Regions from separate parts of the Homo sapiens genome. Here region 1 is linked to region 2. The links come from fine-mapping of genetic effects on gene expression. A gene starts in region 2. The other region holds a variant in brackets. All regions are shown on one strand. Distances are between the middles of the regions.

Region 1 (4,000 bases), 28 kb before region 2:
CTTCTCACTCCTGTTGTGACAGTTCCCACCCACATATCCAAATGCCTGGCTTATCCCTGACCGTCGCTCTTTCACTCACCCAAACTGTTATCATTGTCCTCAGTCTCACTGGCGAGTTTAAATAAAGTCCGCCTCTTGTTCTCACACTGATCAAACAGCTCCTGAAAGAGACTCGGACATAAAAATCAAACCACAAAGGCCCTTAGAGATCATCTGATTCATTCAGGGTTCATGCCCAGAAAATGACCGGGATATGCCAATTGCCACGGTCAATTACCAGCAAAGCTGGGATCACAGCGCACGTCTTCTTGCCACCAGCCACCACCACCACACCACATCACCCAGGATGTTTGTCTAGGTAGCAGTCACCAGGATGGGTCAGGGGAAGTCAGTCCCCTCCTGCCTTCCAGGCTGGCATGTTCCTCAGAACTCAAAATATCCACCCAACCATGGCCTGCACCACATGGGCATCAGGGTTACAAGGAAGCCTCTCTGTCTTGATGTCCCCAAGGTAGTAAGGAAAGGGAGAGAGCAGGGGTGAGCACCGAGAGTGTGGTCTCTGGAGTCAGACTCAGGTTTCCATCTGGCCCTTACACCCTGGACAAGTCAGCTGATCCCAGGAGGCAAATGGGGACGCCACCCTCTACTGACGTGGCTGCTGTGCAGATGAGTAAGGTCATGAATACACTGCCAAGTGCACAGCCCGTGTCTCTGACAAGGCACGTGCTCAGCAAATGCTGGCTGAGCTCCTGAAGGGCAGCGCAGCCCCGGGAGGCAGCCTTTGCCGTCGGCGGTCCCACCTTCATCAGCTCTCTGTCCCCGTCCGAAGAGTCCTCCTGGCTGTAATGAAGCAGCATCTCACTGAGCAGTCTCACGTTGTTGTTAACTTCCTCTAACGTGTGCAGACGCTTGGTCACCTTCTGGATCCGTGCCTCGTCCTGCCCCAGTGAAGAAGTTCAAGAGAAAGAGAGCGTCACTTGACTGTCTTTCCACTTCCACCAGGTCACACCTTACCCCACAACACAAGTACAGACGCTCGGAAGCTCCTTTCAGTGTGGGGTGCCTGGGGCCCAGTCTATACTTCTGCTTTCACAACACTGCTCCCAACCCACTCCTCTCTTCCGTGCTCCCGCGGAAGCTATTGTGCTCCTCCTCCCACTCTCAGCCACCGGGGCACAGGTAGGGCAGCTGGCAGCAGGGGAGAACAAAACAGGCCCGTGTCCGGGGCAAAGCGGCTTCTGCTGTGTGGCCATGGGCTCCTCCACCCCGTGCCTGAAGGACCGGGGCCCACTCACTTCCTTCACCATGGACTTGATGAGCTTGTTGGCCTCCTGCAGGTCATCTGGGTTTTTGCTTTTCAGCAGCTTGGCTAAAAGCTGAGAGAGGAGGAAATCAGAGGTGAAGGGAAGAGGCAGCACCCGTACCCCAGGGAAACCCCAGAGGCTCCCCGCAGCACAGTGCAAACCACATTCCCCTGCTGCCACCCACTCTCGTATGAGAAAATCCCAGGCCCAGGGTGTCCTTTACCTTGGACTTCTCCTCATCATCAAAAACAGGGTTTTTGGGACGAGGTGGTGGAGAGGGGATCAGCGTCCTATCCACAGGAATTGGTGGGTCAGACTGCACTATGCCTGAAAGGGGACATGGCAGCACGTGCACTCAGGCTGTGGTTGCCTTGTCACCCCTCCTCATACACCAAGGGCCACGTCCCTGTGATCAAGACCTGCAAAGGGTAGCAGGGTGGAGGGCAGGCTGCTACACCTTATCCCATCCAACTCCGACTCAGCCTTGCCTGGGGACAAATGCTGTTCTCTTCAGGAGGGACTCTGGGGATCCCAAACCTTCCCTTCTCTCCTTGCCTGGGCCAGCCTTCGAGGGCTGCCTGGAGGCTGCGGGCAGGCAGACACGTACCCTGTCTCTTCAGCATGTGGTAGGCGTCTTTGATCTTTGCTTCTTCTGGCAGGGCCATGGTCCAGCTGTACAGCAGCTCAATAACCTTGGTCTTCACTTTCTCAGACACCCTGTCCCCCAGGTACTACATGGCAAAAGAAAATGAGGACCTAGTAAGTGCAGTTCGGAGGCAGAGAAAGTGTAAGGCTCCCTCCACAGCAATGGCGTGGCTGCTCAGCAGCTATGGTCCTACTCAAAATCTGCAGGTGTCCAAGTGTGTGTGAGACAGCGTGGGGAGGGGAACGACTCCCTGTGGTGTGGCTGTGTCCATCTGGATACAGTCTGTGGATAGGCAGGGGGCCAGGAGGTCATCACCTCCTGTCCAGGAAGTGTCCTGTAAGTGTATTCATGACCTTACTCATCTGCACAGCAGCCACGTCAGTAGGGGTGGCGTCCCCATTTGCCGCCTGGGATCATCTAACTTGCCCAGGGTGTAAGGGCCGGATGGAAACCTGAGTCTGACACCAGAGACCATGCCCTCGGTGCTCACCCCTGCTCTCTGCCTTTCCTTACTACCTTGGGGACATCAAGACAGA[G/C]AGGCTTCCTTGTGACCCTGATGCCCATGTGGTGCAGGCCATGGTTGGGTGGATATTTTGAGTTCTGAGGAAAGTGCATTTTCACGCACAAGTTGCCAGAAACACAACTGCATTTTATCTTGGGGGTGTCCATGAGAATGTCTTTAGCATGGTAAAGTATTCCCTCTGCTTTAAGTGGGGGCCCAGAGCTGCGCCACACCAGCGTGCAACAGAACACGGCCAGCTGAGCATCGGAGCAATGACGGAGGCCAGCTCCCCGTATCCACGTGACACAGGCCAAGAAAACCCACAAAACCCACAACTGCCATGTGCCAGGTGCCTAGAGTCCCACACTACATGGGCCCTCACCCTGGACAAACACACAGCCACTACCACATCACCTGTCAGATTTGGGCTGAGGGCGCTTCAGAAAAAGCTGCCGGTCCCTGTGGCCTGTTTGGTCATCCCGTTACCTCCAGGGCCTAGCTCTCTAAGGACAAGACACAAATAATCTCAGCTCCCTGGAGATGTTGGATGGGCAGTGAAAGCCAGTATGATGGGAGATGGGAATGAACACAAAAGAAGTCCCTAAAAGCGAGGAATCTGCCGCTGACTGACCTTTGGAGAGACGACTTTGATTAACTCATTCAAAAAGCGGAACTTCCCCACTTCGTTATGAAATCTCCTCCCACAGTTCTTCATGCATGCCTCCAGCACCTGTAGCCGCACAGAGGAGAGGCGCTCAGTGAGGGCGTGCTCGGGGCTGGAACCTGGCACTGGCAAGATCCCTGGCACCCAGAGAGTACTGAATAAACACGCCCACAGGAAGGAGCTCATCACGAAAAGCAGTGTGCACTGCCCGGGGACAGTGTAATTAAGCAACGAGATCACTCACAGACCATGTCCCTCCAACTGCAAACCTCTGCTGGGGAAGCTGGGCAGGGACTAAAGCAAGAAACCCCGAGACCCCGACCCCAAGAAGGCCTGGATGCCAGTCCTGGAAGGTGCCTTCCTTAAAGATTCTGGCCTCGTGTTTTACAATGAGGGAGGTGAGGTCCAGGGACAAAGTTTCTCTGACTTGGTGTCCTGGGTTTTTTCCACAAGCTCACCAACAATTGTGCAGGGAATGGGAGGGATGTTTAAATCCTATTATCTGTGAGAAAGATGACAGGATATTTCTCCTCCCTCCGCTTATCTCCCTAACTCACGCTTTGGCTTTCCTGTGCTGCCTGTGGTCCCTGGCACTGCGGTTTCTAAGGGGGAGTGCACTGTCCAGGCTCTCTTTCTTGGCTTCTGCATTTTAAAGCAAGGTTTCTCAGGTGAGGCCTGGCTGACATTTTGGGCTGGTCATTCTTCGTTGTGGGGGGCCACTCTGCACTTTATAGGGTGTCGAACAGCATCCCTGGCCTCTGCCTACTTGATGCCAGGAGGACCCCCACCCCGATGTGTGACAACTAAAAATGTTTCCAGACACTGCCAAATGTTCCCTGGAGGGCCCTGTTGAGAATCACTGGGTTTTGTTACGTTTTTTTTTT
Region 2 (4,508 bases):
GAGAAAATGGGGAGGGTTATGTGGCTAGTAGGGACCAATCAAAGTAAGAATGTAGTTTCTCAGGAAACACATCTTTTCCTGGCACTAGGTTGAGGAAGGAATACTGACCAGGACATGCCTCCAACAGCAATTTCACAAGAAAAAGTGTTCTTATACTACACACATGCAAACCCCCAACAAGAGAGGGCCACATAGGGCCTCCCAACAGGCTCGGCTTGACACATGATGGGTGTTGCTAATTATTAGTTGAAGACAAACCTCTGTACTGCGTGTTACAGCGGGAAGGCATCAGGCGAGAGCAATTACTATAGCTCCTCTGGCAAACGGAATATTCTCCATCTTCTGTCTCAAAGCAGGCAACTGTGCATTCAAGAGACGGGGCTATGGCAGCACAGAAACCAGCAATTCAAATGTAAGCGCTTCAAGGGCAGGAGCCGTGTTCTTTTTTTTATGGTTAAACTTTTTTTTTTTTTTTTTTTTTTTTTTTTTTGAGACAGGGTCTCGCTCTGTAGCCAGGCTGGAGTGCAGTGGCAGGATCATGGCTCATGGCACCCTCACCCTCCCAGGCTCAATCAATCCTCCCACCTCAGCATCTTAAGTAGCTGGGACCACAGGTGCCTGCCACTATGCCCGGCTAATTTTTCTTTTCTTTCTTTTTTTTTTTTTTTTTGTAGAGATGGGGTTTACACCATGTTTCCGGGACTGGTCTTGAACTCCTGGACTCAAGCAATCTGCCCACCTTGGCTTTCCAAAGTGCTGGAACTACAGACATGAGCCACTGCGCCTAGCCCTATGGTTAAACTTTTAAAACAGTCTTTACAGTCTGAGAGGTGACTGTGATTCATACTCCAAAATAATGGCCTCAATGTAGCTTGTCTTCCAGTTCAAGAATTACGTTGCCGACTCCTATCGTCAGAGAATGAGGGGAGGGGTGGAGGCATTCACCAGGCTCAGCCTCTGGTGCTGCCCACAGGGGCCCTTCTCTGTAGCTCCTGACCCCAGCTCAGGAGGGGTCCCGTGCTCACCTTTGAGTGCTGTCTTCAGCAGCTGCTGGGTCTCTGCATCAAAGGACTGGATTTTATACTCCTCTCTACTGGGCTCCCCCATGACTAGCCAGCCCCGGTAGCTCTTGACTGGGCTGGGAATAAGGACAGCACCTGAGGAGAAGAGGCGAAGGGAGCGGCCTCAGGTGTGGAGCGCAGGGCGGGTTCCGTCCTGCAGGCCCTGGACGGGGCTGACGGCGCGCTCGGGACAGGGACTCCTGGGCGGTCCGTGGCGTGCGGTGGTTGGCTGAAGGCCCACCAGGCTTGGCTTCTGGTGGGGACTGGGCATCAGCCAGGCACCTGCTGCTCAGTTTAGAAATCCCTCGCTTGTGGGATTACACAAGAGCGAGAAGCTGAAGCAGGAAAGCGCCCACCCTCCAGTCCCAGCAGGAGGCAGGAGTAGACTGGGGCAGGGTGTGTGCGGGCGGACGTTACAGTTGCTTAAATAAACCGGCCTGACGTTGCTGGCCCAGGAAGATGCCGGGTGAGGGCCAGGCTGGGAACTCCAAGCGGTGCGACTCTGTCCCCAGCAGGTCTCCGAGCCCCTCTCCCCAACCCTCTCTTTCTGGCTTTCGCCGAGTCCTTCGGTCTCAACACCCGCCGCTGCATCCCCCGGATGGGGCCGGCCTGCGTGGGTGGGGACGCAGGCGCCCTGTCCGCCGCCCCTGCCGGGAGCAGCCTGAACTCCCCAGACCCGTGCCAGCTTCTCCCTGGGACAGGCTGGTCGGATCGGCTCCCGAGTGGCAGTAACCCGGCCCTACGCACTCGAGACTCCTAATTCCTGAGCTCCATTCTGGAGCCTTCCTCTTACTGGGGGGCAGGATGATGCGCCCCGGAGAGGTGGCTCCCGCCGGAGGCTCCCCTCTGGCCGTAGGAGGCGCCTTTAGGGTCTCCAGCCCTCGGCCGTTCCCCCCGCGCCCGGAACGCCCCTCCCGGAGGCACAGGGCGGGCTGCGGAGCCCACGGCCCAGGGTCCCGCGGGCGGGAGAGGCGGCGTGGGAGCCGGGACCCACCTGCCGGGCCGGTGGCGCGCGCGCGTGCCCGGGGCCGCTCGGCGCCTGGGAGCGCGCAACCAGCGTCCGGCGCTGCGGGGCCCGCCGTGAGCTCATCTCCTCGCGCGGCGCCGGGGAAGGGTCGGCTCGCCCGCGCCACCTGCCGGGCCCCCGGGGCACTGCCCTGGCCTCCAGGCCGCCCCGGAAGCCGCGCCGCCTGCGTGGGACCCTGCGACGCTGCCACCCAGCCGCAAGCGGAACTCGCTTGGCTCGTCACCCCTTCACCCGGTGCGCCTGGGCCGTGTCCGGGCCCACGCCGGACCCGCCGGCACCTCGATCTTGCGCGTGGCCCCGCACCCAGCCCTCCCCGGAGCTCAGGTGCACTGGGCCGGGAGACACCGCTGGGCTGCGCGGCGTGGGAAGAGCCTGCAGAGCGCGTGGTGGGGACCTGGTGGCAGGAGGAACAGCATCAGCCCTGGTCGCACCACTTTCCCCGCTCCCCCAACCCAGGTAGAGAAGGCAGGGGCTGCAGGGCCGGGGCCAGCCACAACCCTCTCCCGCTCCAAGGAGGACATGGGCGAAGCGAGTTTCAGGTCATAGGGGCAGCCCCGAGAAAGGGGCCCCATTGGCAACTCGCGGCCGTCGGTTGTTGCGAATGCCCCTGAAGTGGCGCGGACCCCACCGCCCGGCGTCTGCCCTGGGTGACAGGAGGGCACCTAGAAGTGGGGGAAGAACTGCCGCCGCTCCTGCCGCGCGACCGGGAGGAGCGCTGCCGGCGCTGCCCGCGTTCTCGCCTCCTTTTAAAAGAACCGCCAAAGTGGTCACCGAAAACGGAGGAGGAAGAGAACGCTCAGCTGCAGCAAAAGAAACCAATGGGCAGGAAAGATGAAGAGAAGAAACTTTAACGGAATTTCATAAAAAATGCATTCAGGCAGCTGCATCCTCGTGGCCCCCGCCGCAGCCTGGACCTTGGGAACCAGCAGCCCAGAGCCAGGAAGCCCCAGCATTCAGGGCCCAGACAGACCCCAAAATCCCAGACCAGAGGCAGGGAAGGATGGTGCGAGGAGGAGCCCAGGACCCACACGCCAGGGCCAGGGCCAGCGCCGGCTCCCAGTGGGTGCCTCTTTCCAAGGCTGGAGAGGGAGGCAGAATGGAGGGCTTCCCAGGTCGGAGCAACCCTACAGGCCGGGCAGATGGAGGGAAGGGTGGAGGTCATGTTCTGGAGACCTCCCCTCAGCCTGGAACTGGTTTCTCCTCTGCCTCTCCGCCTGTGGGTGTCCCTCTGCTCTGGTAACACCCCAGGCACCAGCTGTGCCCTCACCAGGCTACGTGCCCGCCCCTTCCTTCTGCCATCCCCATCAGTGGGCTGCTTCAGAGCCACGGCCCTTCTGGGGCTACAGGGGAGGATGCACCCGCAGCATGCTCTGCACTGAGGAGCAGGCAGTGGGCGCTGATGCCACCTGTCCTGCTGATAGCTCCTCACCCAGCAAGGCTGACCCAGCTCTGGGTGAAAGAGGAGTCAGTGAGGTAGACTGGGGAGAGGCTGCACCTTCACCCACGCCTGCCCACAGCATGGCCCATCCACTTCCTGCACGGGCGCTGGGATCTGCTTTCCATGGAGCCCCACGGCCATGACCAGCCCGGTCCTGGGAGAGGACAGCCTGGGTGGTGGTGTGTCTGCAGACACGAAGGTCTGGGCACGGGGCCCAGAAAGTGACTGGCTCAGCCTGGAGTCTCCCCCAGCACTAGAAGCAGAGCTGCCAAGGGCTGCCGCTATGGAGAACATGGGATTTGAGGAAGGCAGGAGTCCTTTCCCTCATACTTTGTGAGTAGGCAGATGTGCCAGGGGAGATGGAGTAAGATAAGGAATGTGTGTTTAGCTTTAATGTCTATTAAATAGGTTGGAAAAACAGGCCAAGTGTAGGGACCTGACTCCTGCAAAGGGCCTACCGCAGCCCTCTGCACTCAAGCAGCAGCCCCATCCAGACCAGGAGTGTGTTCTGTTCTCCTGGCAGGCAGGGCTGATAGGTGTAGGATGGCGTCTGTTTCCTTTGGAGTGTGGGCTGGTCAGAGGAGAAACAGCAACTTCCTGCTCCTTCTCACTGTGTCGTTGGCTCACCATAGACCACGTCCTGCATTCCCTCTGATTCTCTCATGGGGAGAGCCCTGGACCTTCTGGTGGTGTCCCAGCTGGGTGGGTTCAAGGCTGCTACCCCGCTTGGGGCAGCTGGCCTGCAGGGAAGGGCCAGACGGCACCTCTCAGTGGAGACTGAATCTTCCTTCCTTCAGGAGGCTGCCTCCAGGGAAGACCTGGGGTCCTTCCTGCACTCAGCGCTGGCTGGCTGTCCTGTTCATGCAGTGGAAGACATTACAGAAGAATTCATACGAGAAGAACATGAAGCCTGTGGAGAGGGCAGCCTTCAGCAAGCTGGGGGACAGGCCCTTGAAGAAGCCCAGGGCGCCTTCCTTTTGCA

Which allele goes with the higher level. Positions count from the first base shown, and alleles are read on the strand shown. Sizes are in standard deviations (SD) of each study's normalised expression.
With allele G in place of C in region 1, the expression in naive CD8 T cells of the gene that starts at base 2,211 in region 2 is higher (large effect, 1.7 SD a copy in Schmiedel 2018).

Evidence for each region. PIP is the estimated chance that this variant, and not a neighbour inherited with it, causes the effect.
Region 1: its variant is fine-mapped to the expression of MIF4GD-DT in naive CD8 T cells (Schmiedel 2018, PIP 0.95).

What each region holds. Positions count from the first base shown.
Region 1 is chr17:75,241,536-75,245,535 of GRCh38, forward strand. It overlaps GGA3 (golgi associated, gamma adaptin ear containing, ARF binding protein 3), which reads right to left. Exons shown (of 17, transcript NM_138619.4): 4 at 3,084-3,182; 5 at 1,912-2,035; 6 at 1,528-1,631; 7 at 1,296-1,376; 8 at 801-938; 9 at 80-161. Among named protein-coding and RNA genes, the nearest start is that of GGA3, 18 kb to the right of the region's middle. RefSeq lists an enhancer at 1,461-1,510. The variant G/C (reference allele first, on the strand shown) is at 2,487.
Region 2 is chr17:75,269,089-75,273,596 of GRCh38, forward strand. It overlaps MIF4GD-DT (MIF4GD divergent transcript), which reads left to right and starts at 2,211. Exons shown (of 1, transcript NR_036520.1): 1 at 2,211-4,508. It overlaps MIF4GD (MIF4G domain containing), which reads right to left and starts at 2,143. Exons shown (of 6, transcript NM_001370592.1): 1 at 2,056-2,143; 2 at 1,026-1,157. The coding sequence starts at 1,107. It overlaps SLC25A19 (solute carrier family 25 member 19), which reads right to left. Exons shown (of 8, transcript NM_001126121.2): 8 at 3,904-4,508. The coding sequence ends at 4,363. RefSeq lists silencers at 1,710-1,779, 1,890-2,549, 3,520-3,569 and an enhancer at 3,058-3,845.